Linked DNA regions of Homo sapiens: regions 2, 3 and 4 are each linked to region 1. The links come from fine-mapping of genetic effects on gene expression. A gene starts in region 1. Each other region holds a variant in brackets. All regions are shown on one strand. Distances are from middle to middle.

Region 1 (5,000 bases):
TTACTGCATTATCAGCTTCTCAGATCCTTGGAAGGAGGTCCAGTACTCTCCGGCTTTATGGCTGGACCACAATTCTTTCGTGGGACTGTTACAGTTAAATGGGTTTAGTTTGCTAATTTTGTGGTCTGATACCATATATTATGCTTTGTAACTATGTGGCATTTCTGGACTTCTAAATTTACATTTTTATGGATAAATGAAAGTGACGGCCAATCCCTAATACCATAGTAAATGTTATTTCCTAACGTGGAGAGCCTCTCTCCTCCCTGCTGGATGGCAGTGCATTGTCCATTTGTCTACCACAGAGCTGAATCTTTATTAGAAATAATGCTCCTGTAAGTTTCGAGACCAGCCTGGGCAACATAGTGAACCTCCATCTCTACTAAAATTACAAAAGTTAGTTGGGTGTGGCGGCACACACCTGTAATTTCAGCTACTCAGGAGGCTGAGGCAGGAGAATCGCTTCAACCGAGGAGGTGGAGGTTGCAGTGAGCTGAGATCGTGCCACTGCACTCCAGCCTGGGCAACAGAGCGAGACTCTGTCTCAAAAAAAAAAAAAAGAAAAAAAAGAAAGAATGCTCCTGTAGATAGAGATTTTGATGGAAAGTGAAGCCATCTAACTGATATACTTTATCCCTCATCATTTCCAAACAGGAAGTCAGATAGTCCTATCCATATCTAGAATGTTGGAAGCAGTTTATTGAATTTATTAGGTTTTAAAATTCAGTTCTCACATTATCAGATATATAAAGAGATATTAACTAGTTTCCCCATTTCATAACTCCAGCAAAGAGGATTTTTCTTGCTGAAAGTTACTCAGAAATGTGATGGCAAGGATCTATGGCTTTTTTTTTTTTTTTTAAGATCTCTTGGGTCATGGTCCAATAGTATCTGTTAGTCCAAATTATTCTTTAAAGAATAATTGAATGTGGGCCGGGTGCGGTGGCTCACGCCTGTAATTCCAGCACTTTGGGAGGCTGAGGCGGGCGGATCACCTGAGGTCAGGAGTTCGAGACCAGCCTGACCAACATGGAGAAACCCCATCTCTACTAAAAATACAAAATTAGCTGGGTGTGGTGGCGCATGCCTGTAATCTCAGCTACTCGGGAAGCTGAGGCAGGAGAATCGCTTGAACTGAGGAGGCGGAGGTGGCGGTGAGCCGAGATCGCGCCATTGCACTCCAGCCTGGGCAACAAGAGTGAAACTCCCTCTCAGAAAAAAAAAAAAAATGAATAATTCAATGTGGAAATTATAATCTGAATAGATTTTCCAAGGAGAAAATTATCACTTCTTTTGAAACAGATGAGTGAATTATTTTGTGCTACGTTTTCTACCCCTTATTTTATACGGACCTTAACTCCTTCGGGAAGAGTGTATGGTATAAGGACACCAATAAGCATTTACAGAATATTAACAAACCAACAATAGGTTGATGATTCACCCTGGATTCGTGCCAGGCTCTGTGAAAGAACTCAATAAACATGATGTGCATTTCAAAAACTGCTAATCATAATTGAAATTTCCAAACCCCTCAATCCCATAAATTATATGAACTAGAATATGATCATTTGGCCTGCCCCTACTCCCTTTACAGCATGATAGACCCTGTGATTATCAGGCTTTCGGGAAGTGGGACACAATACTTCATTCTTCAAAGAAAAAGAGGTGATGTTTGGTCTTTTCCTCTTTTTAGATTTTTTTTCACACGTACCTTATAGAGTTGTACACTGCTCTTTCTAAAATCCCTTCTGTACCTGTACAGTCTCTCCTTTATGCCTTCATGACACTTTTTATTCTTTTCAAATAAGCAGTGCGACTTATCACTTTTATTTTTCTTTCTGTAATTCATCTTTTGTCATGTACACTATTTGAAAAATATTACAAGCCGCTCATCAGAATTTCGAAAGAGTCCATATGAGAATGGTTTACACCCACTCTGTAGCCCGCAGCAACATGGATCCGCGTCCTAATGACTGAAAAGGCCAATTAAGACCCGGGTAACAGCAAGATCAACCGGACTTCCCCCCACCCCACCCGGGACCTGCCCGCGCCGCCAGCCCGGCCCAGCCCGGGGGGCGCGGGGGGCGGTACTGGAGCGCGGCGGGCGGCGGAGGAGGGCCGGCCTCGCACTCTCACAAAGACGCGCCCGCGGCGGGAGCCCAGCCCACCGCCTCTGGCCGCCGCCTGCAGCGCGAGCCCTCGAGCCCCGGGCCGCGGCGTTGTCAAGGCTCGGCCTCTCTCCGCCTTCTTCTCTGCTCATTTTATTAAAAAGATTAAAAAAAAAAAAAAAAAAAAAAAAAAAAGGAAAAAGAGATCCCGCCTCCTCCGCCTCCCATTGGCCGGGCCCCCGGCCGCGTCACACCGCGCTGTACCAATGGAGGGGCGCGATACTGCGAGGTGGGCCGGGCCCGAGCGGGGAGTGGGCGGCGGGTCGGTGCAGCAGCTCCGCCGCGGCTCCGCCACCATCGCGGAGGTGCCGCTGTTCCCACAGACGCTCGCGAGCAACCCTCCGCGCTCCGGAGCCTCCTCAGCCTCCCGCACACCCCGAGACGCTCGCCCCGCTGGGCCTCGGTCCCCGCCTCCTCCCCCGTCCTTTTCCCCTCTCTCGCTCCCCACATTGTCTCTGCCTCATTTTCTCTCCTAGTTGAGGATTAAAAAAAAAAAAAAATCACCATCATCCTCAGGGAGCCCCCTCGCCCTCGGAAAACAAAACCAGACATGATCCTGGGCTCCTGCTTCTGAAAGATCTGCCCGACCGAGGAGGAGGGAGCCTAGGTTCAAGTCGCAGGAAAGGTCACGGCAGGGAAGCCCCCTCAGCCCCTCCGCGTCGCCTCCCCGCGGGCCGCCCCTCTCGGCCCTGCGCCCCGCGGCCCCGCAGCCTCCGCGCGGCCTCCCGCCCCATCCCCGCCACTTTCCCCGGAGCTGGGCCGCGAACACCTCACTATTGATGGTGTAGCGCTTTAGGGGAAGGTAAGTGTCCAACTTGCCCGCGCCGGGTCGTGTGCTTTCTTTTTTGGCCCCTCGTCCTGGTGGTCAGAGAGGGTCGGCCGTGAAAGCAGTCACTCGCCCGGGGGGAGGCAGGAAGAAAAGGCTGGGGTCGAAGCCGAAGTCGAGGGGAGTCGGGCGAGGGCAGGGCACTTCTTTGGTCCTGTCCGGGCCAGGTGACCGTTCCTGCGTGCCTTCTGACCCCTGCTCTCTCTTGGCCTCTTATTCATGCTCTTGTTCTACTTGTTTGAGGTTAAACTATTTCATGTGACTACATTATTGGCTGAAACTGGAAGGGAAGGAAGTCAAGGACTGAAACTGTAAATTTCTTGAATGTTTGTGGATTTCGGGGTGCTGGGGGGAGGACTTTATTATTAAAGTATCATTTTCTCATTGGGGGAAGATTTCCTCTTTGTGCTCCCAATCTCTAGTTCTCAGCTGTATGTGATTAGAAAATTATGAAACCCAAAGTCACTTGCAGCAGAATAGAATTCTTACTATCCTGTTTTAGTTCTGCTCTCTGAAGGAGGGTGGCTTCTATTTATTACTAATTTTTAAGATGATGGAAAGATTCGTAGTTTTACATACACGTGTGTATGTGTGTCTGCTAGGAGGGGGGAAAAGTGTTGCAGGCTTCCTTTGAAACTGGTTGCTTGAGAAGTTGTTGAAAGGAAAACAGAATGATTCATTGTTGAATTGTCATTTTCCTCTGTCTCTTTTCCAAGGTTTGCTTACAATTTTTCTGGATTACAGACTTCAAACATTGATTTAAGTAAAATGGGTCCTTGAGAAACTGGGTGCTTTAAATGTTTCAGTATCTGTTGCTTTTTTAAGGTACATTTAGAAAGTAGTTTTGTATGAATCGTGAAATAGCCTTCTTCACAGCGAATTTTTAAACGCAAAAAAAGATAACTAGTAAGAGGGTGAACTTGGTGAATTACAAAATAGACATTTTAATATAGCAGGAATTGATGCATCTAAGATTTGAAACAGTTTTCATAATTGCTTTCCATTTAAAGAGAGACCTTTTTGTCTAGTGTACACTGGTCTTTTTAGTCTCAGTCTGTTGGGGGAGGGGAGAGAAGCTGGATCTGTACAATAATAAAATCATCTTTGGGTTGATATTTTGTTCCATGGATTTGCTTGCTGAGTTAATACTACTGTAAATTATCAACCAGTTTTGATTTTGATGGCCTGGGATGGGTGGAAAGCTGGCTTCCAGCTCTCCCTGTTGTTGTTGAGGTCGAAGGGAAAAGAGGCAGAGGCAGACAGACACACATATACACACACACACACACACATACACACACACACAATACCAAGCTGAGGGCTCATTGTTCTTCCATACACACATTCATTCTCTCTCTCCCATATTTGGGACTAGGTTTGCACAGACAAACACAGCTCTTTTTGGGAGAGAAGAGAGAAGATGGGGGAAGGGAGGGTGCTTTTCTGTTACAGCTTTCTTCCACCCATCTCATGCCTGGCCGTTTTTGCAACCTTGTGAGGCAGAAGAGTGCATTGGAAACTAAAGGACACTCAAAAACATGTTCAGAGACTTCTCTTCTCTCTGCCTCCCTTTATTCCTTTTGCAGCCGTGGTTTCTGCTGCTCTTTCTTTTTTGTATATGTAAAGATAAAATCCCTCTTTATATGTTGTGGCCTTACGTTCAGCTCTCATTGCTTTTGTATTTCTCATTGACCCTGATTTTGTTGGGGACAGTGATTTGTTCACTTGAGTCTTAGTAGTGAATGTGAGCAGAGTCTTTCTAGATAGAAATAGATTTTATTGATTAATATTATAAAGGTTGTATTGAGGTTAATATTTAGCAAGATGATGTTTGCATGTTTTTAGTGGTGTGATGGTTTGATGGTCAGGTTTGCTGGCAATTGAGCTGTCAATGTTGTTTTTGTAAATAAGGGTTATAAGAAAAGATCTGGTTTTCTGTTTAGGGGGCTCCTTTGAATACTGGACAGGGAATAGGCTAGTCCACCTGGGATAAACCCAGCTGTGGC
Region 2 (8,259 bases), 390 kb after region 1:
GCACAAAATCATAAACGTAAGTTGTAACACAAAGCAACAATCTCCTTGCCATAAATATTTATTTATATTTGGATCTCACCTGGCTATGGGGGTACACAAACAGAAAAGGACTTGTTTTATGTTTCCAAGGAGCAGCACCTAGTTGGGTTGGTTGGGCATGAACACACCAGAGAAACAAGTGCCAACATCTCAAGACGCTCAGTTCGTGCGTCTGAGAGTGGGCAGGCTATGAGCTGGGGAGCATAAACAGCAGAGCTGCCCAGCGCTGGCAGCAGTGGCCAAGTCAGTGACTTGCCTTCTATATTTCCTTCCTCCTTTACCCTTGGCATCCTGCTATTCTAATATCTATACACTGGGAGTGATAGAAAAACTAATGGACACAGAAATAATTCATGAGACCTTGAATTTCAGCACTGGAAATGCCGAATTTCAGCTCAACAACTAGAAGACTCTTAAGAAACAGACTGTCTCCATGAACTTGCATTTAGAGGCTTATAGGGCCTGTTGATTTATAAGTCAATAGTGTTAATTGTTAAAGTCTTAAAAACTTCGGGGTCTTCATTTGAAGAGCGATGAATTTATAGAGGGAAAGGAGACAGCCGCAACAGAAGTCTCTTTCACGTGTGACCCCTTCCAATCATTGACTACTGTGAGTGGTCGTCTTTGTTTCGATTTTCAGGGCTACTCTACATTTCTGGTAAACCACAAGCTAAAGGCTGGTCTCTGAGAAGCAGATGTTTTGCTGGTTTTGAGGCCTTGTGGCTTTCCATAGAGAAGTAACAGTACAGGCCACATGAAGCTTTTACTTCCTTTTTTTTTTTTTTTTTTTTTTAAAGTGGGGCCAAGGGTGCTTTTGCTCTTGATAGCATTATATTGACATACATTGACAGCTGTGGTAGGTCTGTGTTCACCACCAGATGTCAAATTCCTATTTCTGGAAGTAATTAGTTTGAGATACCTGTGAAACGTTCAAGTTGAGTGTTCCCAGTGGACTTGGACCATAGATTTAGTCTTAGAAATACCAGTGACAATCTCGAAAGATATTTAGAGCCAAGGGAACAGTGGAGATCATATGGGGAGAGGATATATATAGCAGAAAGCCCTAGGACAAAGCTTTGGGGAGACTCCAGCATTTAGAGGTTGAGTAGAGAATTAGGCCAAGTGGTATGAGCAAAACTAGGAGAGTTTGGCATCATGGAGCAAGAGGTCAGCTCTGTTAGGAGAGTTCAAAATGGACCTTCTGGCTTTCAACAGTCCATTTCCACTGTGACCACCCTAGCCCAGGCCCTCAGCATCTCATGGTTGGTTTCACTTGTCCGGGTGCGGTGACTCACACCTGTAATCTCAACACTTTGGGAGGTCAAAGCGGGAGGATTGCTTGAGGCCAGGAGTTTGAGACCAGCCTGGGCAATATAGTGAGACCTCATCGTTAATAAATAAATAATTTTTAAAGGAGACAAAAAATGTGGTGAGCATCAACTGCCTAGTGTTATATGGAGGCACTAGGTGTAAGATGTAATTATTTTAAGAGTTTATGGACTTTTTGGGTAAGCAGGCCTTATACAAATAAATAAACTAATGAGAGAGTAACTGGACATCTGGTTTCATTTGGGAGTAGGAGAGATTTTGAGGTGAACGTGGAGATGCCTTACCCAGATTCTGGAGTTGAGACAGAGGTCCCCCAGTGTGGGCCAGTTGGCATTACTGGACATCTGGCTGGAAAGGTGGGCAGGGCCAGGATCCTGGAGGGCCTTGAATTCAGGGCTAAGGAGTGTAAACACTGTCCTGCAGAGACCACCATGCTGTTCTTAGGTAGGGGCTAAGGGCCAGATAAAGTGGGACTCAGGATGAAATCTATAGTTGGGAAAAATTCCTTGGCAGAGGCTTTTAAATGGCTGGATGGGGGAGATGGTTAATAGCCTAGTTATTAGGAAAGAGAGATAAAGGTCTGGCCTGGGACTGCCACTAGCATGAGCAGGAAAGGAGGGCGTTGAAAGACACTTTTTTTTTTTTTTTTTTTGAGACAGAGTCTCTGTCGCCCAGGCTGGAGTGCAGTGGCGCAATTTCGGCTCACTGCAAGCTGCGCCTCCCGGGTTGACGCCATTCTCCTGCCTCAGCCTCCCCAGTAGCTGGGACTACAGGCGCCCACCACCATGCCCAGCTAATTTTTTGTATTTTTAGTAGAGACGGGGTTTCACTGTGTTAGCCAGGATGGTCTCGATCTCCTGGCCTTGTGGTCTGCCCGCCTCAGCCTCCCAAAGTGCTAGGATTACAGGCATGAGCCACCGCGCCCGGCTGAAAGACACTTCTTAGGAAGAATACTGAGGACTTTATGATTTGACATTGGACCCGAGAAGAGGAAAGTACAGACTCATAGAAAATGGTAACAGAAAATAGTTACCACTGTAGACGCCTGCCTGCATTTTACAGAGTGTGGCTCTGAGGATTTGAGGGGGCTTAAGTTTGAATTCTGGCTTTGTCTCTGAGGAGTTGATCTAGTTACCTATCTGTGCCTCAGCTTCCTTGTCTGTAAAATGGGGATAATAATTGTACTTCTTCTTAGGTTGTAAAGATTTCGAATTAATATATATGAGGCTCCTGGCATATAGTAGGTACTTAGTAACTATTGGTTGAATGGATGATGTTCAAAGGATTGCATCACAATAAATGGAAGAAACAGGATCTGAATTTGTTTGTCCAACTCTGCCACCTTACCCTGATGTTCCAGAGTCAGCCTTTCTCACATGCTGCCTTTATTGTGTAGGCCTCTTTTACTGGACCTGTTAGATGTCACTTGGTATCAAGCCCACGTTCCGATTGCATGGTCCTGGCGTTCCACAGCCTGGCTCACTCCAGATTGCCCGCCCCAAGTCTGTGTAGACTGTCCCCTGTAACCCACCTCCCATTCTCCACCTCTGACCTTCACGGAGGGCCCGGTCACCAAGCCACCTCCCACCCCTGCAATAGTTGCCCACCCCTTGTGATCTCGCTGATGTCACTGCCTTGGCGAAGGCATTCTGAACTACTACAGACCACTGCAGTCTAGCCTTCTTGGGTCCCTTGCTGCACTGATGAGCTGCACCTCACTTCTTTATGCTTGGCCAGATGACATCTCAGAATGTTCTGTAATGACTTCACACATACTTATCTTACGTGCAAAAATGAATCACAGTTCAGTAAAGGTCCATGGCAACCTTTATTATCTTCCTAGACCCCTCTCAGCTAGGTGCTCAGTAAATACCTGAATACTTGAAGAATGGATTAAGCGGCAGGAATTCTGATTACTGAGGTGGAGTGTGCCAGTAGTTGAGGTCCTCATCTCATACCTGAACTGTGTCAGCAGCCTCTTTAACTGGTCTGTCCCTAATCTACACTTAGGCCACACTGCCACTGGCACAGTCCTCATCCAGTCTTTTCATGGAAAGCTCCAGCTTCAGCCTTTCTGCCAGCCTACAATTAGGAACTCTTCCGTGCGGCCTGAAGGGCTCTCTGCAACCGGATCCTTGCCTGCCTCTTTCGTCTTATCTGCTGGCACTCCATTCTGCACACCCTGTCCTCCTTGCAGTTCCCAGAATGTTCCCTGTGCCTTTTCCTGGCTGACTTCTGCTGGAAGCCCTGCTGGAGCCCACCTGGCAGGCTCACACTCTTCCTTGTCACTTCCTCTAAGACATCAGCAAGCAGAGTAAGTTGCTTCCTCTTCCTAGCTTCACCCACCACCCTTTGTTCCTCTGCTGCTTTTCTTGCAGGCCCTAGGACTGGTTTGTTTACCTGTCTGCCTTCCTGGGCAGACTGCAGCTCCTTGAGGGCAGGGCCATCTTTCCGTGCCGTCTCTCCCGGTGATATGCTGTGTGCACACAGCGTAGGATGCCTGTTGATCATATAAACGATACTTTTGTCAAGTAACAAAGGTCACTCCTCACACTAGAGGAGAGCTTGCTGCTTTCTTGTGCCTTGAGAGATTTTCCCTTCGAACTGTATGAATTATATTGAAAATTGACAATGATGAGTCATATCTCAGCAAGGGTGAAATTCAAAAACGCAAAGCCTCCACTACTGGAGTAGGAGGTTGCAGACTGGTCTTAAAAGGCTAAGTCTGGCCCTTCACTGAATCCGCCTGGCGGGTCTCAAACACAGGGAGTGGGAGGGACCCTCTGCCCGGTGGGCAGGTGATTTATTGGCTGGGAAGCTTCCGCGGTGATTTAGTTGTGAAGCGGCGGCCGGGGAAGTGCAGGCTAATGCCTGGGCCGCCAGGGAGAGGCCGCCCACAATCGCGGGCCGGAAGGGACCGCGGGGGGCGTCGGGGCCAGCCCCCCGTTTCGCAGCTGAGGCGGGGTTGGGGCGGAGGGCGTGCGGCCGGGGCGCAGCCGACTTCGTCCATCCGGAACGTGGGCTGGAGACCCAGCAGCCTGGGAAGGGCCCCAGCCCTGTGGGCGCCCTCTCCCCACGCTTGCTGCGGTAGGGAGGAAGTTTCTGTGCTTTACCGCCTTGATGTTCTCCTGTCCGGAAGGAGGACACAGATTCCAGCGCCGGGTGCCCTGGAGGCTCCGGCCTCGGGGTGGGGGTCGGGCCGGGGGCGGGGCCGGGGCCGGGGCGCGGGGCCCCGGCTGGCGGACAGGAGGGCGGCGGCAATCCAGGCCGCCTTTTGCAGCCGCCCGCGGCCGCGCCGGGCTCTGCGCGCCGCGCTCCTGCCTCCTCCCCCGTCAGCGGCGGCCCCAGCCCCGCGCCCCCCGGGCCCCGCGCCGCGCGGCCCCGCCGCGGTCACACGCCGAGCCACCCGCGGCCGCCTCCGCCCTGCGCTTTGTGGAGCCGGAGCCCAGTGACAGGCGACGGCCTCTTGCCGCCCCGGACCCCGGGCGCTTACCTGTGGCTGCTGGGGTCGGCCGCCCGGGACCAGGCTGGG[A/GGA]GCCCCGAGGTGGGGGCTCGGAGCCAGGAGCTGCCCCCACCGGGGCGGGGAGGGGTGCTCGGGAGGCATGGGACAAAGTGAAAGTCTCCGGGCTGGGGTTAGGGACGAGTCTGCTGCGAAAATGGATGGGGGCGGCGAGTGGCGTCGGGAGGGCGGAAGGGGTGCTGGTTATTCTCTGGTGTCTCGGAGTGGCTTTTAATGACGGACGGTGGGGCAGGCCCGCTGGCTTTCGTGTTCCCGGTGGGCTTCTGTGATACTGGTGCCTTCCGGTGCCTCCTGGCAAATTCTTTGGATTAAGGAAAGCGGCCTTTTAACCCCCTAGGGTTCCCTTCTGGAGAAGAGTCACCGGGTTTGGTTCTGTTTCCCCTTTCTGCTCGACACTTCTGGGAAGCTTGGTTCTCAGGTGGGAAAGCAGTTGTGTTTTATTAAAACATGGAGCATATTTATACCTTCGTGCACCAGAATGTGTGCCTGGTGGAAGAGGGGGACAGATTGCTTCTTAGCCTCAGACGCAGGACGTCCTTCTCTTAAACGCGCTGCCCTGCGTGGTGGGTGGGATTGGGGTTCTGATGAAGGTAGCTGGGGCCTGCCCTGGCCAGTGGGTCCCAGCTGAGCTGCTGACATACTCTCCGAGCCTCGGCAGTATTCCCTAGCCGAGACTTTTTTTGTGGTTGTTATTCTGCTGATTGTAGATATCTTTGCTTTGCTGACATCCTGTTTTGTTTTTGGTTTTTACATCCCATTTGTTTCTTTTTATCACAGAAACGCTTCGTTAAGGGACTCAGGCAGTACGGGAAGAACTTCTTCAGAATTAGAAAGGAGCTGCTTCCCAATAAGGAAACAGTGAGTACAATTGGACTTTATGTAACTTGATTTTTTCCTCTTTGCTCCTGCTGCCTCTCCACATTTGATCTTATGAAATGGTTTCCTTTAACCCTGCGCTGTGCTCAGACTCGGGCTGGCCTCCAGAATTCTCTCCGTTTTACTCCCTTGACTTTTAATTTGAGTTCATAATTTTTAGATAGTAAAGTGACAGATTATGCTTATCCGCCTGGAGAACATAGACTTCTGTTGTAACTCTGAGAACAGAAAGGTCTTTGGGAACAGAGGGTTAGTTGTGGGGGAAGGATTGTTGGAGAGTTAACATCAAATTTTAAACATAGTGGCTGGAATAGGAAATAGCATTTTATCACTAGTTTGAATTTGGTAATTGGCAGAAATCATCAACCAAACCAGAGGTTTGTGGCTTATTATACTTTGAGTTCTGGGGGATTTTTTCCATTTTTCAATGTTGCTCTGTTTTGAAGAGGAGTTTTAACTCTTTAATATTCTATCCCTGAGAGTTTGCACTTTCCACTGGACAGATGTACAAGGGGATCTTATAAATTGCTTAAATGGAGCTTTACAAAAAACTACTTAGTATTTCACAAAGCTGGGGGTCAGAGCTGACAAATGTGCCCGATAAACGTGAGGTAGAAGGATTTGCTGAGGAAAATACAGAGTGAAATTATATGAAGAGAATGCGGGGAAGGGATTCATTCTCATTTCCCTGTGGTTGCCTCCCTCCTCATCTCCTTCCCTGGTGGTGTAGAGGCAGATGGGGAGAGAGTCTTCCCTCTGGCTAGGCCACGGGATAGGGCAGATGGGATGGAGTTGGAGCAGCCACTCCACTGTCTGAAGGCGAAGGGAGGACTCATTAACCAGAAACACTCTTCAGGACTTTGGGAGGAGTGATCCATGTTTAATCTGCCTAGACATTGAGCTGCTTTTTTAGGGAGTGGAGGTGGGAGATGGATGCAAGAATATCTACTATAAAAGTATGCGGATAATTTGGGTTTTTTGGCTTAATTTTTTAATTGGATGTTGTTTACTGATTTCCTCTTGTTTAATTCTGTCTTTTTAAAAATGAGCTGTTTTTCTGGACACTTACTGTATAGTACCTCAAGGACAGTGATAACTCATGGGGAAGAAGGGTTTTGTGATTTCAAGTATAGTCTTGTATATATAAATGGATGATTTGCATCAGTCAATGACAATTAAATTTAAGTATTACGCATCTCATATGCTAGGATGGATCATATTGAGAATGGTAAAAAACAGAGAGAGAGAAACCTGTTTATGAACATTAAACTAAGATGTATTATGATGCCAATCTATATAATCAACTTATTTCTTACCCTTCCCAGAACAGGGTAGAGTTATTTAATATGGAATATTGAGATACATATTTTAAGTTTTCTGGGGATTTCAGTGACTTGAAGTTTGATATGATTAAAAATTAAAATGCCTTTGCCCGAGTGTAGGAAGTTTGGTTTGGCTGAGTAAAAAAGAGATCAGTGAGTAGATTTCTCCTGATCGCTCAGATTGTAGCCTCTCAAGTTCTCTGTCTCTGCTCTGCTAAAAGTTGCAAACCATGAAGAATTTGATACAGAACTATCTTGACAATTATTTTATCTTTCAGTTTTAAAAAATAAATTCATAATTGGAAGATTAAGCATTAAATCTAAATTCTACCATCTGGCATTTGGAAATGCTCGGTAATTTTACTTAGTGTTTTATCTCCGTAGTGGAAGCAGATGTGAGTAACCTTTAACCTAGTTAAGTTCTTCTACTATGTTTTTCTTTTTGCTCTTGATTTTCCCTTCTTATTGATGATGTGTGACTCCGTAAATAAATAGCCTTTTTTCTCCTTCAGAGGCATTCTCAGTACACCAACCTTTTGAGCTAGTTCTCTGGTTGTCTTTTCCACTAGCCTCTTTGCTGAGACCTTTCCCCATCACTCCTCCGCCTTCACAGTTTCCCACGCTGTAGCTCTTCTCCCTTCTCTAGCACCCAGCAGTTTTCCTATTTCCAAAGTCTTCATCAGTCACCATCATTGGAACTAATGAGAGAGTTGTTTGCAGCAATGGAGGATTTATTATGCCTGACATTTGCTAAATATTCATAGTGTCCTTGCTGTCTTTTGCATTGCACTGGAGGAGTTTGGTAGTAGGGTAAATCTGTAAGTATTATAATGAGCTGGGAGAGGCACTCATCTTGTGTTTTCTTATTTTCTCTAGTTATCAACATAGCCAAGCTAATCATTCACAGCCCACAGGGAGGGGAGGGCAGAGGTCATTTTTTACTTTTTGCTGCAGAAGATGAGATTTGCATGTACCAGTGTTGTTGATTCAGAACTTGCTGGGTAGAATTCTTATAGTCATGCCCCTTTTGATAGCAAATCCCTCTAATATAGATACTTTTCACATTCTCTCTCTCTTTCTCTCTCTCTCTTTTTTAATGAGACAAGATCTAACTCTGTTGCCCTGGCTGGTCTCAAACTCCTGGGCTCAAGTGATCCTCCCCTGAATAGCTGGGAT
Region 3 (8,259 bases), 470 kb after region 1:
CAGAGACCACACTGGGTCGGCGGACACAAAGTCCATCCAGGACCCAGGCCGCAGAGGGAGCAGGAAGAGATGCTGATAGTTTGATCTAGAAACCAGCAGCTACTGGCTCAAATTCAGGTTCTGGCGTCAAATAGCGACATTTCCAGTTTCTCTTAAAAACCGTGTTTGGTTTCAGTTGGGATAGGCTTGTTTTGTCTGTTGAAAATGTTTCTAGTTTTTTTTCTTTCATTTTTCTCTCATTCCATTTCTGCCTTAACTTTAGTTTGTTCACAGGGAGGCAAAGCTGACATGAACCTTTTGTCGTGGGACTTCAGGCCACATTGGCTTGAAGGCATTCGTTTCCTTCTGGGGTGGGGACAGGCCCTCATGGCAGGCTTGTTCCCGTGGCTCTGAGCGAGGCCTCTTCCTGCTGGGCTCCCAGACTCCTGCATCCAGGCCCCCACCTTCTCGGCTTCTGGTTTTTCTTTCTTTTTGGTAGAACACAACATCTACCATTCAGTTAAACCTTCTTTATCTCCTCCTTTGGCATCCATTTTTCCAAAGAAGAGTCGAGTCCTCTGAGGTCTGTGCTTGAAAGCCGTCCGAAGGCATTCTTGTTAGCTTTGCTTTTCTCCCCATATCCCAAGGCGAAGCGCTGAGATTCTTCCATCTAAAAAACCCTCGACCCGAAACCCTCACCAGATAAACTACAGTTTGTTTAGGAGGCCCTGACCTTCATGGTGTCTTTGAAGCCCAACCACTCGGTTTCCTTCGGATTTTCCTCCCTTTGTTCGGGGTTTGGTTTGGCTCCTCTGTGTGTGTCCGTATCTTGTTCGGTGTCCTCGAGGTTGAGCTTCACTCCACTGCGGCAGAGGCAGCGTGCACACTCGGATTTGCTACGTTTCTATATATCTTGAAGCTAAATGTATATATGAGTAGTTTGCCATGAGATAACACAGTGTAAACAGTAGACACCCAGAAATCGTGACTTCTGTGTTCTCTCCATTTGAGTATTTTGTAATTTTTTTGAAATATTTGTGGACATAAATAAAACCAAGCTACACTACAACCCTTGGGTGTCTCCCGTGCACTGTCTCATTCCTGGAGAGTGGGCGGGGATCCTGGCTGTTACCCCAGGTGGGGAAGGGACAGAGGGAGAGTCGGCTGTTCCCTGCTGCTCGGGACCCTGTTTGCATCCCAGAGTGGCTTCCAGAAACATCCTCTGTCTGGGAAGAGGCTTTCCCTGGTGAGGGTGCTGTCTTTCTTTGGAGGCTCCCCAAGCAGCGGGATGGGCCCTAAGCAGGCACTGGCATTGGGACTAAGAGCATCTTCCCCCACCCCTTGCCATTCACCCCACACCTCTAATCCGTGGGCGTTACCAGCATGTATGGGCATGTGGCACCCTGCCTGCTCAGGAGACACATCGGAACCACCCCATCCTAGCGGCCTCCTGCCTGGCCCCCATCTGCCTCCCCGTGGCCTACCAGTGCCCCCACACCCCACCCCCAGCCACCCAGCTCTAGAGCTGCACTCCAGGTGGAGGATGCATCCCAGGCCTAAGGGGCTCTAACCCTCCAAAGGGGCTGCAGGCAGCCTGCAGGGTGTGGACATGGCCACAGGGGGGCAGGCGTTGGAATTGCGCTGTGGCTTCAGAACCTGTTGAGGGCATTTTCCTGGAGCCTCAGGATTGTCCCCGGAAATGTGTGTCCACCCTTTGTCATCTGGGATAGGGCCATCAGTTTCTAGGTGTTTGCAGACATGGGGCAAGAGCAGCCCAGAAAGCTGACTGTTGGTAAACTGTCCTCAAACCAGGCAGGGTCCGCCACGTGGTAAAGACTTGGGGAGCAGCAGGCACCAGGCACTGCCTCGCTCAGGACCTGAGAAAGCTTCGCCATGCAAAGACCCGAGTGGCGCACACGATGACGGCCCTTGAGGCGAACAGCAGGGGTCCTGCTCAGCAGCGTGGCTGACCAGGGCACAGGGATGGGCCCGCAGGCTGGCCACAGGAGCCCCAGGTGGCTCTCAGTCCAGGTCTTGGGTGAGAGGATGGCACTGGGGTGGCTGGGAGAGGCTGGAATCCAGGCGCTGTCTTGGTGGGTCTCCGGGACTGTGCCCCTTAGGAAGCTGCAGGGTTTAACAGGTACAGGTCTGTGAAGTGTAGATTTCAGTGTGGTTAAATGGTTGGATCCAAGCGTCTTGAGGAGATAGTAGGTTCATGCTACAACAAGGCCTCATCAGAGCTGGGCAGCTTCTCAGGCATGAACAGCTGTGGCCATTGTCACCACTCTGCCACGCACCCATGTGAGGAAGAGGGCCGGGAATGCTAACCAGACATCTGCTGGGTGGACGGGGCGGAGGGAAATGGTGCTGTCCTCCAGCAGCACCCCAAAGCCAGGCCCTCGCCTCTTGCTGCCCCAACGACGTCCCACGTGCCCTCTGCCCCTTTGTTCCTGGAAACGCATCCTCAGCTTGAGCATGGTGGCTCAGCAGCCCCGCTGGTTCCACTGCAGGTGGGCTAGGAAGATGGCACTTTGCAGGGCATGGTGTAAGTCCCAGGGCCTCAGCACAGTGTAGGTGTGCAGCTGGGTGTGTGGCTGCATTGTTGATAATTGTCCATGGTAAGTCTAGGGAGGGAGAGACCTCACTTAAGCCTCACCTGGGTAAGTCAAGATCACGCATCTGAAGGGCAAGGATGCACCGTGGAGAGATCAGCGGTGGCCTCCCACACACACACGAGATTGCAAGCTTCCAGGCCCTCAAAAATCAGCACTGGTGAGCTATACAATTGTGGATGTGATCAGCTGATGAGTGGTGGCGGGGGGCGGGGGGGGGGGGGGTCAGGGCCAGAGCCCTTCTGTGTGGAAGCTGAGATGTGGGGAGCCGTCATCTGAGCTAAGAGCCCTCACTAGCCCCAGCCTGACCACATGGTGAGACCCAGGGCAGTGTGACTGGGCACCAGCACAGACTTCAGTGACCACCATCAGCCTCACCTGACCAGCCCAGAAGGCTTGGGTACATATCTGAACTCAGAGCTTTGAAATCAGAACCAGCTACCCAGATACTGGGGATGAAGCTGCCAGGCCCCAAAACCAGTGGAAAAGTCTGTCCTGCACTGGACCCCTGGGGCCCTTCCTGCTGCCCAATGGAGACCGAGGAACAGCGGGGTCCTTGGCCTCCCTACCTCCTCCTAAGGAGGATCTGCCAGATGAGCCAGCCAAGGGATGCAGCCGCACATTTGGCCATCCGGTTGGACTGATACGGGCTGCAGGATAAAGCAAGCCCTTTCTGGTTCATAAGGTTCCCGGACCTCCCGTTAGAAGGCGGGGCCTGGCTGGAGCTGGCATCCATCGTGGATCCCCAGGGGGCCAGGAACAGCCTCCTGCTCAGCCCCTGATGAGCTCCAGCTGCAGATGCCTCACCCGGTCCTCTCGGAGGCGGCATTGTCGGCCTTTGACAGTCTCGGTATCTGAGGTCCTTTACCTGAATCCCCACTGGGTTCCTAGCTGCCCTGGAATCCTTGGCAACTCAAGTTCTGGGACCTGGTTCTCTGCTTCTCCAACTCAAGGTGGCTTCTCTAGTGGCTGTCTTTGTCAAGAGTGGTCATTGTTCCCTTTTGACACCTCAGGGACCCAGGCTGCAGAAGTCCCCCTGTATCTCCCACAGCCCAGTTCTGTGTATGCACAGGCACCCGGGCCCCTTCTTAATGAACCAAGTTTGTGGAAGGCACTTGCTCTGCAGATATTGGAGGGATGGATGGATGGGTGGATGGACCCTGCTGGATGGATGGATGGATGGATGGATGGATGGACGGACGGACGGATGGACGGACGGACGGGCCCTGCAGGGCAAGGTTCCTTGCT[G/T]CCAGTCCAGATGTGCTATTGGAAAGTGGGTGTGAAGGACCAGATAGAAGGACCTTTTGGGTTGACTTCGGAAGGCTTCCCAGGGACGCCTCTGCTGGGCACCTGGAGACCCTCCCTTCACATTCTCTTGACTGTGCCTGCCGTGTGGGCCCTGCAGTCCCTCTGACTCCAACCCTGGTTGACACCATCGTAGAAGTGGGGAATGGGGCTTGGGGGATCAGCTTCTGATGAACCCCTAGGGTTTGAGTATCCATTGGAGCAAATTAAAAACAGGCTTTTAGAGCACCTTTTAGTTGTCCCAGAGAGGATTCCTGAGGCCATTTCTTGCCTATCCCACTGTTTTCTGGGCATGTGACCACCCAGTCCCCCCCACCCCCCAATCCCCTTGGACCCTGCTGCTGGGCAGCCGTCGAACAGAGTCCATCCCCATCCTGGCCACCAGGTGGCAGTCGTTACAAGGCCCAGGTGCTTGCCCTGGGCCCGCGGCTGCCACAAGACCTGCAGCTCTGGTGTAGGGGCAAGTCAAGGCCCCCGGCGATGGTGGGGAAGGCTGGAGGGTTTGACAGCGAGCATTGTGTAAGAGATCCGACGTTTCCTCGAGGCAGGCGGCCGGACAGGCGGGTCAGAGATCAGGCAACTGGACAGGCCTCAGCAGAGCGGGTTGTGGAGATGGCTGGGAAGAGGGGGCTGAGTGTGGGCAGGTGAGGCTGATGGCTGTGGGCAGGCAGGGCGGGCACGGCTGTGAGAATGAGGGCAAAGGCCTTGTCTAGAGAACAGGAGGTTTCTTCTGTTCTCCGCTGCATCCCCCAAGGCTTGGGAGGTACCCGGTAGGAACTCAATGTTCCTTGTGTGGAAGAGAATCCCAGGATGGCATCAGCAGCGGATGACTTCCAAGAATCATGACTCCCATAACTAACCGCGCCCCCACTCCCCGACAAGCCCCCTGAGCAGCTGCTGGGGGTCCTTGTGTGCCACAAAAGTACCCACCCCCAGTTCCAGACACCTGCTCCTTCCCTCTACGGATGCCCTCCACCCGCTCCCCGCTGAGGATGATACGTCACGCCCCACGCACCCGAGTGGATTCTGCAGACACACTCTGAGCAGGTGCAGGGAGGGCCAGGACCTCCCGACTGCGGGGGGGCCAGGCAATTGTCAGTTCTTGCATATTCCAGGGAAATCATCCCTGTTCCCCCAGAAACCTGTAGCCCAGCCTGGTGAGTGTAGGAATGCCACCTTACCGGGTCCCGGTTCCCGGTTCTCCAGGGAATGCCACCTTACCCTGTCCCGGTTCCCCAGGGAATGGTCCAGGGTTAGCCCAACAGCCTAGGGAGGAAGAAACACAAAACCCAGGGAGGCGATGACCTCTAGGGCAATTCCTTTGATGACGTTCAGTTTCCATGCTAAGTGCTGTGGGCAGTGCTCGATGGCTGTTAGGTGTGTTTCGTTTCTGAGTGGCATCAAGGAATGGGAGCCACTTTCCAAGTTTGCTGACAGGAAAGTCAGGAGTGGCTTCAGATCTTGGTGATGTGGTTTTTGTTTTGAGTGGCCTGAGAAGCATGAGTCTCACAGAGCGCTGATCGATAAAGCAAGAGGCCTTCTCCCGCTGTCCCCTCGCCTCTGAATAGGATGAGAAGCTCCCTCCAAGCTGAGCTCCCTGGGGAGCGAGCCCTGGGGAGCGAGAAGGCCTCCCTGCAGCAGCACAGTGTTCAGGAGACAGACGGGCAGGAAGCTGCCCGCCCTCAGGGGCTTGGCCGGCTCACAGCGCTCCTAAGGCACTCAGCGGCATGAGGCTGGACTCAGACTCCCCGGGCTCAAACTCCACCCTGTTGTGACGTGGGCCAGGTACTGGGTGTGCTTGCCTCAGGATCCAGATCTGTCAAATGGGGGAATGATACCTCTTTCCCAGCAAGGTCGGAGAATGGATTAAGATTCATTCACACGTGGCCTCGTGTGTAGTGAGGACTTCACAAACAGCAAGCAGCGGTGACTACCCTCATCATCACAGCTTGATTCTTTTTTTTTTTTTTTTTTTGAGACAGAGTCTCGCTCTGTCACCCAGGCTGGAGTGCAGTGGTGCAATCTCAGCCCACTGCAACCTCTGCCGCCCAGGTTCAAGCGATTCTCCTGCCTCAGCCTCCCAAGTAGCTGGGACTACAGGCGCCCACCACCATGCCCAGCTAATTTTTTGTATTTTTAGTAGAGACAGGGTTTCACCGTGTTAGCCAGGATGGTCTCAATCTCCTGGCCTCGTGATCCACCCGCCTCGGCCTCCCAAAGTGCTGGGATTACAGGCGTGAGCCACTGCGCCCGGCCCACAGCTTGATTTTTAAGTAGAGAGAAATCCTCTCTGAGATGTGAAAGTCAAACGAATGTGGCTCTCAGTGAGTCCTAGGCCTCGTGGTTTGGAGCTGGTGGCTGCTCCCACTGCCATCTGCTAGGAATAGACCTGGAAGTCAAGGGCAGCTTTTCGGACCCGGCCAGAGGGCAGTACTCCCACAGTTCGGGAGGCAGGGCAGGTTCTCAGAAAAGAGAGGCTGACAGGGACGATTCCCACGTGTAGAAGCAATCTGTGTTTTGTTAGAAAGTTCTAGGAAGAGGGCCTAAGATTTGACAAGCCAAGAGTAAGCGGGAAGCCCCTTATTCTTCATTTTGACCAGTTCTGGGCAAAGACAGCCCAGACCAGAGGACAGCCACCCAACACCACATTTTCTAGGAAGTCTGAAGCTCTTCCAAACAACATAAATGTGGGGAGGGTAAGTCTGCAGTTCCAGGAAAAGCATGGGACTAACAGGGCCTGAGTCTACAGAGGCTCAAAGGAGCGGTGTGACTTTGAAAAGCCACTAAACCTCTCTGTGCTTCAGCTACATGTGTATCAGGGACCGTGAGACCCGCTTCACTGAGCTCATGACCATGAAGGGTAAAGCAGCATCACATGAAAGCACAGGGAAAGAATCACTGGCTCCAAGCAGGGTGGACTGCACGGAGGAAGTGGCATTTCAGACAGGTCTACATGGATGAATCAGATATTGATGGGCAGAGAAGAGGTGGACTTGGCCTGCAGGAAGATCCTAAACACAGGAACCGATTGTGGCCCACAAAGGTTCTGTGGCTGTAGTACAGGGGGCTGGCAACGTGGCGGGTGGCTGGCTCGGGAAGATGGGCTGGGCTCTGTTTGGTGGAAGGAATTTCTACCTGATTCCTTAGGGTCTGGGGAGCCAGGGTAGGTGTCATGGAAGACTAGAAGAGGGGATGGGCTCAGGCCCGTGTTTACAGCCCCCCAGCTTCAGGGTGGAAGATGGATGTGAGGGTAGACAGGAGGCCAGGAGTCCAGCAGGGGCGCAGAGAGGAGTGGTGGGGCTCCAGGAGGCAGCAGGCAGTGACACTGAGGAAGGCTATGGCCCATGGGGGAGGCCGGGGCTCAGGTGGGAAAATCATAACCAAGGTGGGGAGGCCGTGGTTGGGAGGGAGGCTGTGGCCCAGGTGGGGAGGTAGCCTTTCTGACTGGCCCTAAGTGGTCACAGCAAGATGATAAGACACTGTCATGAACGCCAGACTCCCCAAGGCTGGCAACAGGCCCCAGAACCCCTGTTGTTTGTTGTGGATTTGTGGTCAGGGATGTCTTATATGTCCCCAGAACACAGGGCCCATGCAGTGAGGGAACTGGGGGCTGCACAATCCCAGACCAGGCCCAGCTTGGCGACAACAGGGACCCGGCCGTGACCCCTCATGGCCATTAATCACCATGCGTGGAGGAGCCCTCCCAGGCCTCTGAGAAGGGGCCTTGGTGAGCTTCCAGCGTCAGGTGACGAAGATGGTCAGAGGCCAGATGGCGAGGGACTGCCACACTCACGAGAGCTTTGCCAGATCCACAAAGGGGCACTGGGAGGCAGTGGGCACAGCCCGGGCAGACCCAGGCCCAGCGACGCCTGCACGCAGCAGGCACATGGTGTCCATCTGTGGAATGAACCCTTGGCGGATGGAGGGGGAAGAATGACCCGAACCTCGCCCTCCAGCCCCTAGTCCCTGCCTGTGGAGTCAAAAGGCAGGATGGGCGCTGGCCAGCCACATCAGCTCCAAACTCTTTGAGATTTCAACTTTTGGGGCATTTTACAATCTGAGCATCTTGGTGCCTATGCTCCCTCGAGCCTGTCAAGCAAGTGCTCACTTCAGAGATCACTCCCTGGCTTCATCAGGACACTGCTCAAACGGCACCTCACTACTGAGGCCACCCAGACACGCTGCTGTCGCCCTGTCCTCCTTCCCTGCGCTTGCGCTGCACGGAACCTCAGTGAGCCATGTGTCTCCCTTCCTCTCACATCAGTTCCAGCAGGGCAGAGTGGACACTTACAGCTGGATTCCCAGGCCAACCACTGTCTGCCACACCCAGGCACTCGCTGGATATCTGGAGGGTGGATGAGTG
Region 4 (8,259 bases), 380 kb after region 1:
TTTATACTAAGATGATACATTTTATGTTTGAAAGTCCAGTGTCCGATTGACCTTTAGTACTTCCCTGCAACAAAAAGTGTGTGTATTGAAATCGGGCATATGGTTATTTCCTTTAATAATAAAGCTCTTAAGTATAGAAGAAATGTTTTTTCAAATTATAATTATTAGAGCACAGTTGATGAAAACAACGAAATAATGTAAATGTTGATATAATTTTCATTTTTGCTTAACATTTATTGGAAATAAATTGTATGGTTTTTTTAAACACGTAAGTGCCCAGAAACCTTGTTTATGTGAGTAAGTAGATGGGAATGATAGTTTTGTTACAGTGTCACTCAGTTATTTGAATTCTTTCCATAATAATGCCAAAAGTATAATTTGTCGTCAGATATGACTTTCCGCAATCTATCAGATGACACTTCCACTAGGACCTCCTTGTGTTTTGTTGAAAGCAGAGAATCAGAAAATGTCTGACTTGTGGAGTCTTTCTCATCCTGACCTCAGAGCTAGGCACTGTGTCAGCACCAGTGTCAATGTTTTAAATTGTCCCCTTGTTCAGTGCCCCTGGGGCAGTGCTGCCTGGTAGCCTTCCAGATGGGAGCGGGGGAGAGGAGGCTGCCTTTGTGAAGTGAGAGGGGGGCAGTGGTGGGGATAGAAGAAGAGAGGCTGCATCCCCTCACAGGAGCGTGTGCCTTCTCAGGCTGATGGATTGTTGGAAAGAGAACATAGGAAAAAAATGTCTTTTGTGTCCATACATCCCATTTTGCGGACTATGGTCTTACACATCTTATATGCCAGGCCCACTTCTGGGCACTGGGAGAGTCAAGGAAACCCACGCCCCCATAGGAGCTGGGCTAGTGGTGTGACGAGGGCTAGCTTAGGAGCTTGGGGCAGGAAACCGGGCTGCATATTGCACTGGAAATTGAATGATGAAAAACTTGCTGTCCTTGCCCTCCAAGGGTTTATCATCTGAGGTCACATAATAAAGCAAAACAGCCCCCCCACCCCCCCGAAAAACAAAAAACCTGCATGAGCTAAAGAAAACCCTCTGCTAGCTCTTGTTATTTAGTGTGTTCATAGAGCAGTTATATTACTCTGGCATACTTTCTATTTTTTTTTTTTGAGATGGAGTCTCCCTCTGTCACCGAGGCTGGAGTGCAGTGGCATGGTCTTGGTTCACTGCAACTTCCGCCTCCTGGGTTCAAGCGATTCTCCTGCCTCAGCCTCCCCAAGTAGGTGGGACTACAGGCATGTACCACCATGCCCAGCTAATTTTTTTTTTTTTTTGTATTTTTAGTAGAGACGAGGTTTCACCATGTTGGCCAGGCTAGTCTCAAACTCGACGTTAGGTGATCCGCCAGCCTCGGCCTCCCAAAGTGCTGGGATTACAGACAGGAGCCACCGTGCCCAGCCTTTTTTTTTTTTTTTTTAGGTGGAGTCTCGCTCTGTCGCCAGGCTGGAGTTCAGTGGCATGATCTCGGCTTACTGCGACCTCTGACTCCCTGGTTCAAGTGATTCTCCTGCCTCAGCCTCCTGAGTAGCTGGGATTACAGGCATGCGCCACCACGCCCAGCTAATTGTTTGTATTTTTAGTAGAGACAGGGTTTCACCATATTGGCCAGGATGGTCTCGATCTCCTAACCTCATGTCCGCCTGCCTCGGCCTCCCAAAGTGCTAGGATTACAGGCATGAGCCGTGCCTGGCCATAAACCATTTTTAGAAGGAGTCAGGCTTTACCAGACTGCCAAAGGGTCCATGGCACAGAAGAGATAAAGAACTGTGCACTCAGTGCTGGCCCCTTCCACATACTACAAATAGTTTCCAGAGTCCAAGATGACAGTTTCAATACAGTGGTTTCATGGAAGGATGCTGCATAGAGTTGGTGTTGGGCACAATGTTACTGGCTTGGTACATGCACCATAGATATTTTGTTTTTGTTTGTTTGAGAGGGAGTTTCACTCTTGTTGCCCAGGCTGGAGTGTAATGGCGCGATCTCAGCTCACTGCAACCTCTGCCTCCCGGGTTGAAGCAATTCTCCTGCCTCAGCCTCCCCAGTAGCTGGGATTACAGGCGTTTGCCACCATGCCCAGCTAATTTTTTGTATTTTTAGTGTAGACGGGGTTTCACTGTGTTGGCCAGGCTGGTCTCAAACTTTTGACCTCAGGTGATCCACCCACCTCGGCCTCCCAAAGTGCTGGGATTACAGGCGTGAGCCACTGTGCCCAGCTCACACCATAGGTATTTTAAATGTTGCATTAGACTCTCAGACCTGTTATTGTCCTGCATTATCCTAAGGATGCTACTATTTCCTGTAATCCCATTTACAGTCAAGTATCAGGGAATCCACCTGGAACCGCCAGGGGGTGTGGTTCCCAAGGGTCATTGACCTTTCTTGCTCCTCCTTTCCATCTGAGGGAGAAAACTTTCATTGCCTCCAGATTGTGTTTCAAAACAATGGAGAATGTTCTTGGTTTTATTACTAAGTAGTCTTGACCTCTAGCTTCGTAGTTATTGATTGGTTTGTTTCTTTAACATCTTGACATTCATTATTTTCTTCCTGGTGTTTTCTTAGGCAGTTGATTCCTCCACACACCAGCTCTCCTGACTTGAAGCTACGGAGATGCATTTAGATCAGGTTTCTTGCATGCTGCTGGCTTTATCTCATTTACAGTATCGCATTTCTGTTGCCATACACTGTAGGATCTGGGCCTCCCCACAGCTTTAGAACAATTAGTAATTGAGCAGGAAGTGTGTTTTTATTACAGTGGCCTTTTGATTTTGATTTTACAATCATGTAGTGTTTAGCAGAGAGCAGAGGTGGGCAAGTGGCTCTCTCAAACACATTTTTGACAGAGAGAAGTCTGTTGTTTCAGCCACTTGGCTATCTGTCAGCGGTTCTCAGACTTCCCCCTTGTGTGGGTTGCCTGGCAACCTGGGGCTGGAGCAATCAAACCGTGGCCAGCGCTTCTCCAGCCCAGACTGGGAGACGATTTACTGGTGGAACTGTAAGTACAGTAAACCCAAGCCTCAGAAATGGACCTTTTTTCTTTTTTAAACCAAGAGTTTATAGAAACCATATCAAGGCAAAAAGAGAGAGAGAGGGAGAATATCAATTAGAGAGTTTTGTTGTAAACATTTTAAATAATAAAATTAGGGCCTGTAATGAGCTTATCATCTATCCAGATATGTATAAGTTAATATTTTTACTTAGTTGGATTATTACCTTTTTTTTTCTTTAACTGTTTTACTGGAACATTCAACATTTTAAAAGTTAGTACTTTTAAACGCTACATTTGAGTACTTGTGATGCTGTCTTTCCACGAAAACCTCAGGCGCAGAGAGTGTTCATGGCTAGCCGGAAGTAAACTGTGAGGCCTTGCTAGAATCAGGCCTTTGAATCAGAGCCCAGCTCTCCTGATGCCTGTGTTCCTGGTTTACTGTAGTGAGCACAAAATGCTGATTGCTCTTTTCCCTATTTTTCAAAATTAGCTGAAAAATCCAGAGACCCATCTATATGGGAAATCCCTATACCTTCTGTTCCGTTTTGCTGTGAACCTGAAATTGCTCTAACAAATAAAGTTTATGAAAACATTTTGAAAATGCAAAGATTCTGCCTTACTATATGCTGTTGTAACAGATGTTTTAGTAGGTCTCCCTCTTCGTATGTATATACATCTTTTTAACTGAAAATTATCCTATATTGATTTTTTTCCTACAGGAGTGAGATCTGGCTGGGCACAGTGGCTCATGCC[A/CA]TAATCCCAACTCTTTGGGAGGCTGAGGCAGCAGGATTGCTTGAAATCAAGAGTTCAAGACCAAGCCTGGGCAACATAGTGAGAACCCCGTCTCTACAAAAAAATATTTTTAAAATTAGCTGGGCATGGTAACTGACACATACCTGTAGTCTGACCTACTTGGGAGGCCGAGCCAGGAGGATCATTTGAGCCCGGAAGCTCCACGTTACAGTGAACTGTGATCATACCACTGTAGCCTAGGTGGCAGAGCAAGACCCTGTCTCTAAAAATAATAATAAATAATAATAAAAGTGAAATCTAACAGCACTTGTTGAGGTTTCTCCTTCATAGCATCTCAAATATCACAAACGAGGATGAAAAGGACTCTATTTCGGGGGACATACTGCATGGGGGTGGGGGGAGCAGAAGTCTCAGCCTGGGTTAGCAGTAATCTGAGCATTTCTTTTTGTAAAATTTTAGAGAAATACTTTGGAACTCAAACTCCCCTCTGCATGCAGCCCATTGTATCCAGCTGTGTATGTAAATGAGCTATTAGTATGTTTGTATTCCTTATAAATATACAGATCTAATCTGTTTGTGTGTGTAATTTACACACAGCTGTGTTCATGCTCCCGTATTACCAATATTGTCAGCAAGAGTGAGGTATCATGGGAGCGCTATTGTTCCAAACAAAAGCCAGCAGCGTAGCCTTGTGGTGGGGCCCATTACCAGCCCCTGATCTTGGGACCCTCCCTTGGGGGACTCTCTTGAAAGTCACAGCCATTCTGCATGGGGATAGCCATCCTGCATGGGGTAGGCGGGAGACCAGAGTGCCTGTAATAGAAAAAAAAAACAATGATCACCTGTTAGACAGGGATCTGCATTATGACTGAGGTTTGGCTTTTGTCATTGAAATGCTTCCTCCACCCCCACCCTGGACTACATTTCCTAAAGGGGTCATTGATTTTCCTTTCTTCTTTGAGATCATTCTTTAAATGAACCGAGTCAAATGAGGAACCCAGTCCCATGTTGTATTGTCAAGAAGGGGAAACAAAATCCAGGAGCCCCTCCTGTATCAGGAGCTGACGGAAGGCCCTGGTGCTGGTCGAGGTCTTCAGTTTCCCTTGTTTGGGAAGTGGGGCAGATCTTAAGAACTTTGGCATTTGGTCGAATTCTTCTAGAAGACAAGTTTTATGTAATTTGAAATAACGGCCCTATGTGGTTTTATTTTAGGAATTTATGATATCGTTGCCCATGATTCTAACAGTATAGTTATTTTGCCTCCCTAATAGAAAACTTGGAGTGCTTTGGATGTTTCAGTATTTTACAAAAAAAGAAGTTAGGATTATTCTAGACCTGTGCTTTCCAATGTGGTAACCACTGGTCTCTTGTGGCTGTTGAGCATCTGCAATGTGCTGGCCCAAGTGTAGATGCACGGTCAGTGTAAAATACACACTGATTTCAAAGACTGAGCAGGAAGAAAAAGAATGTAAAATATTTCATTACTAACTTTTATATTGATTACATGTTGAAATGATAATATTTTTGATCTTTTTAGTTAAATAAAACATTTAAATTAATTTTACCTGTTTCTTTTTAAAGTATGGTTACTAGAAGAGTAAAACTTACATTTTTGGCTTATATTTCTATCGGGCAACCACTGGTCTAGATTCCTTTAATTACAGTTTTTGCAAAATCCTCTCACGGAGGATTTCTACTTTTTTGTTCCCTTGTAACTTCTAGACAATCCACATTTCTTTTTTTAGCTTATTTCTCTTTCCTCCTGTGTTGAGATCTACTTTGCCAAGGAAAGGTGAACATTTTAATGACATAACTTAGGAGCCACTTTACAGGGGCATTTATGTAGCGACTGTAGGGTGATATTGTAGGGAGAGAAGGAGCCTCCCATGCCCATTTGGATTCTGTTATGAGTGTTGGGTTATTTTATTTATTTTTTATTTATTTATTTGAGATTGAGTCTCGCTCTGTCGCCCAGGTTGGAGTGCAGTGGCACAATCTCAGCTCATTGCAACCTCTGTCTCCCGGGTTCAAGCAATTCTCCTGCCTCAGCCTCCCAAGGAGCTGAGATCACAGGCACACGCCACCACGCCTGGCTAATTTTTGTATTTTTAGTAGAGTTGGGGTTTCACCATGTTGACCAGGCTGGTCTCAAACTCCTGACCTCGTGATCTGCCTGCCTCAGCCTCCCAAAGTGCTGGGATTACAGGCATGAGCCAGTGCACCTGGCCGTGTTGGGTTATTTTTAATTTGGGCGTAGCTGTGTGGCCATAATTGGCAAGAGGCATTTGGCTGGCACAATCTCTACATCTGTTAATGCTGCTGCTTAACTAGCCAGTTCTCATTTGACTTGAAAGTGCATTGATGCATGCTTTCTGATATTCACCCAGTGGCAGTACTTTTTGTTGGGCCTGCAATAATGAAAGGACTTCAGTGTACTCAGTGTAATTATCTAGACCCAGAGGGGCACTGACAGAGATGTATATATAGGATAGCTCAATGGGCTGTGCTAGTGGGTGCAGTTGCTGTTTAAACCACAACATGAGGTCATTTTCCCATTGGGCACATGGTCTTTGAATGAAAAATGGAGTAACTTTTATTTGATATTTGAGACCTCCTGGGAAGGGTTTTTGGCATGCAGGTGTGTTGACAAAGGAAATCACTGGCTCTACTCTGGATGCTGAGCTGGCATCACGGAGGGGATGGTGTAGTTCCTCTAGTGGGTTTGAACGAAGAACATCTAATGGTTTTGTCAGTAGTAGTTAGAGAGTTAGAAACTTAACAGTGCAGTGAATATATATTAAGAGACGTTGAGTCAAACTGGAGAACAGGTGATGAGAGGTCAAATAGCCTTGGAGGAACACTAAGCCCAATCATCTCCAGATACATTCTTGTACTGAACCAGTGGTTGTCAAGCACCTGCTATATGTTGTCAAGTGCTGTTCTAGGTGCTGGGGATATAATAGTGAACAAAACAAAGGCCCTTTCCTCATATATTCAGTAACGTAGCCTATATCGTGTTATCTAATCATATCACATATGGTGATAAGAGCTAGGCCTTAAAATGAAGGCAGAGTAAGGTTATAGAGAGGCATGCAAATTGGGGAAGCATCATTGGAAGATTGCTTATTTGTTTGCTTAAATTAATAGTGACTAACAGGTTAAAGTTTTTAGTGGTTTTAGTAATGAATCTTGTATTAGTTGCCTATCGCTATGTAACACGTTACCCCTGATAATAAAAATTAGCCCAATGTAAAGCAATGATGATCATTTATTATCTTTCACAGTTTCTGTGGGACCAGAATTTAGGAATGGCTCCACCGTGCAGGTCTGGCTTAGGCTTTCACGAGGTTGCAGTCAAGTGATAGGAGGTATTGGAATCATCTTGAAGGTTTCTTCACTTATGAGTCTGGGCTAGGAAGACTCAAATGGCTGGGGACTAGAATAGCTAGGGTTTCTGTAGCACCTCTCCATCCCTGATGGTCTCTCCAGCGTGGTGACTTTAGGCAAGCCGGACTGTTTAATCTGGCAGCTCAGGGCTTCAAAGACACGTGTCCAGAGAGGGAGAGCCCAGCAGAAGCTGTGTTGCTTTGTATGATGTAGTCTTAGAAGTCACCTGGTATCATTCTGTCACATTCTGTTGGTCAAGACAGTTACAAAGGTCTACCCAGGCTCAGGAGGAGAGAACAGAGAGACCCACCTGTCAATGAAGGAGTGTCATTATCACATTGTTAGAGCATGTGGGATGGAATCTGTATTGGAGTGGCCACCTCTAGAAAATATAGTTTGTCACAAATGTAAAGATTTTGTGGGTATGTGTGGTTTGATTTGTTGGTTTAATTTCAGTTAAATGATTTATGGTCCTCATCAGTAATATGAGGGTTTCAACCAGCGTAGTTCTCTAAAGCTTCTTTCTAGCTTTCTCATTCTCTGATTCCACCGATAGCGCAGGTGTGGCAGGGTGTGTTGAGCTGGCAGCTGCTCAGCTTCTGTAGACATTTCTGAGCATATCATCAGAAGAGTCAGCTGGGACATTGAGGGGCTGTTGGACTCTTGCTGGCCTCACACACTGAAAGACCTGGCGCTTCAGTCACCCTTTGTGTTATGTTTCTATAGCTAATCTTAACTGGGGGTTGCTAGTGGTGGGGTGATGGAATAAAACAATGATTTAAACCAGGAGCTGTCCATTATCATGATACTCATGAACTGAGGAGGGTAGAACAGCCAGGCAGGATTATATTAGATCTACCTTCCCAAGTGCTCCTTCTCATTCTCTTTGGCCTTTGGAAGATTAGGAAAAAGAGGAAAAGAAAGGAAACAGAAAAGAGAACTCTTTGGTATTACTCCTCTGTGTCAGCTAAACAGCTGCCATATTTGACCCTAGAGAGGACTTCTTTTAGAAATGAATGGGGCCGGGCGCGGTGGCTCACGCCTGTAATCCCAGCACTTTGGGAGGCCGAGGCGGGTGGATCATGAGGTCAGGAGATCGAGACCATCCTGGCTAACAAGG

The links. PIP is the estimated chance that this variant, and not a neighbour inherited with it, causes the effect.
Region 2: its variant is fine-mapped to the expression of RERE in whole blood (TOPMed, PIP above 0.99).
Region 3: its variant is fine-mapped to the expression of RERE in whole blood (INTERVAL, PIP 0.96).
Region 4: its variant is fine-mapped to the expression of RERE in whole blood (INTERVAL, PIP above 0.99).

What each region holds. Positions count from the first base shown.
Region 1 is chr1:8,815,130-8,820,129 of GRCh38, reverse strand. RERE (arginine-glutamic acid dipeptide repeats) reads left to right here and starts at 2,490. Exons shown (of 23, transcript NM_001042681.2): 1 at 2,490-2,970. RefSeq lists silencers at 1,953-2,182, 2,283-2,582, 2,833-2,892 and an enhancer at 2,246-2,540.
Region 2 is chr1:8,420,211-8,428,469 of GRCh38, reverse strand. It overlaps RERE (arginine-glutamic acid dipeptide repeats), which reads left to right. Exons shown (of 23, transcript NM_001042681.2): 12 at 5,663-5,743. It overlaps RERE-AS1 (RERE antisense RNA 1), which reads right to left and starts at 3,825. Exons shown (of 4, transcript NR_125999.1): 1 at 3,769-3,825. RefSeq lists an enhancer at 468-707 and silencers at 4,236-4,375, 4,686-5,025. The variant A/GGA (reference allele first, on the strand shown) is at 4,901.
Region 3 is chr1:8,345,193-8,353,451 of GRCh38, reverse strand. It overlaps RERE (arginine-glutamic acid dipeptide repeats), which reads left to right. Exons shown (of 23, transcript NM_001042681.2): 23 at 1-1,048. Among named protein-coding and RNA genes, the nearest start is that of SLC45A1, 31 kb to the right of the region's middle. RefSeq lists an enhancer at 2,769-3,589. The variant G/T (reference allele first, on the strand shown) is at 3,840.
Region 4 is chr1:8,433,760-8,442,018 of GRCh38, reverse strand. The region is part of intron 11 of RERE (arginine-glutamic acid dipeptide repeats); the gene reads left to right. It overlaps RERE-AS1 (RERE antisense RNA 1), which reads right to left. Exons shown (of 4, transcript NR_125999.1): 4 at 7,003-7,386. Among named protein-coding and RNA genes, the nearest start is that of RERE-AS1, 13 kb to the right of the region's middle. The variant A/CA (reference allele first, on the strand shown) is at 3,753.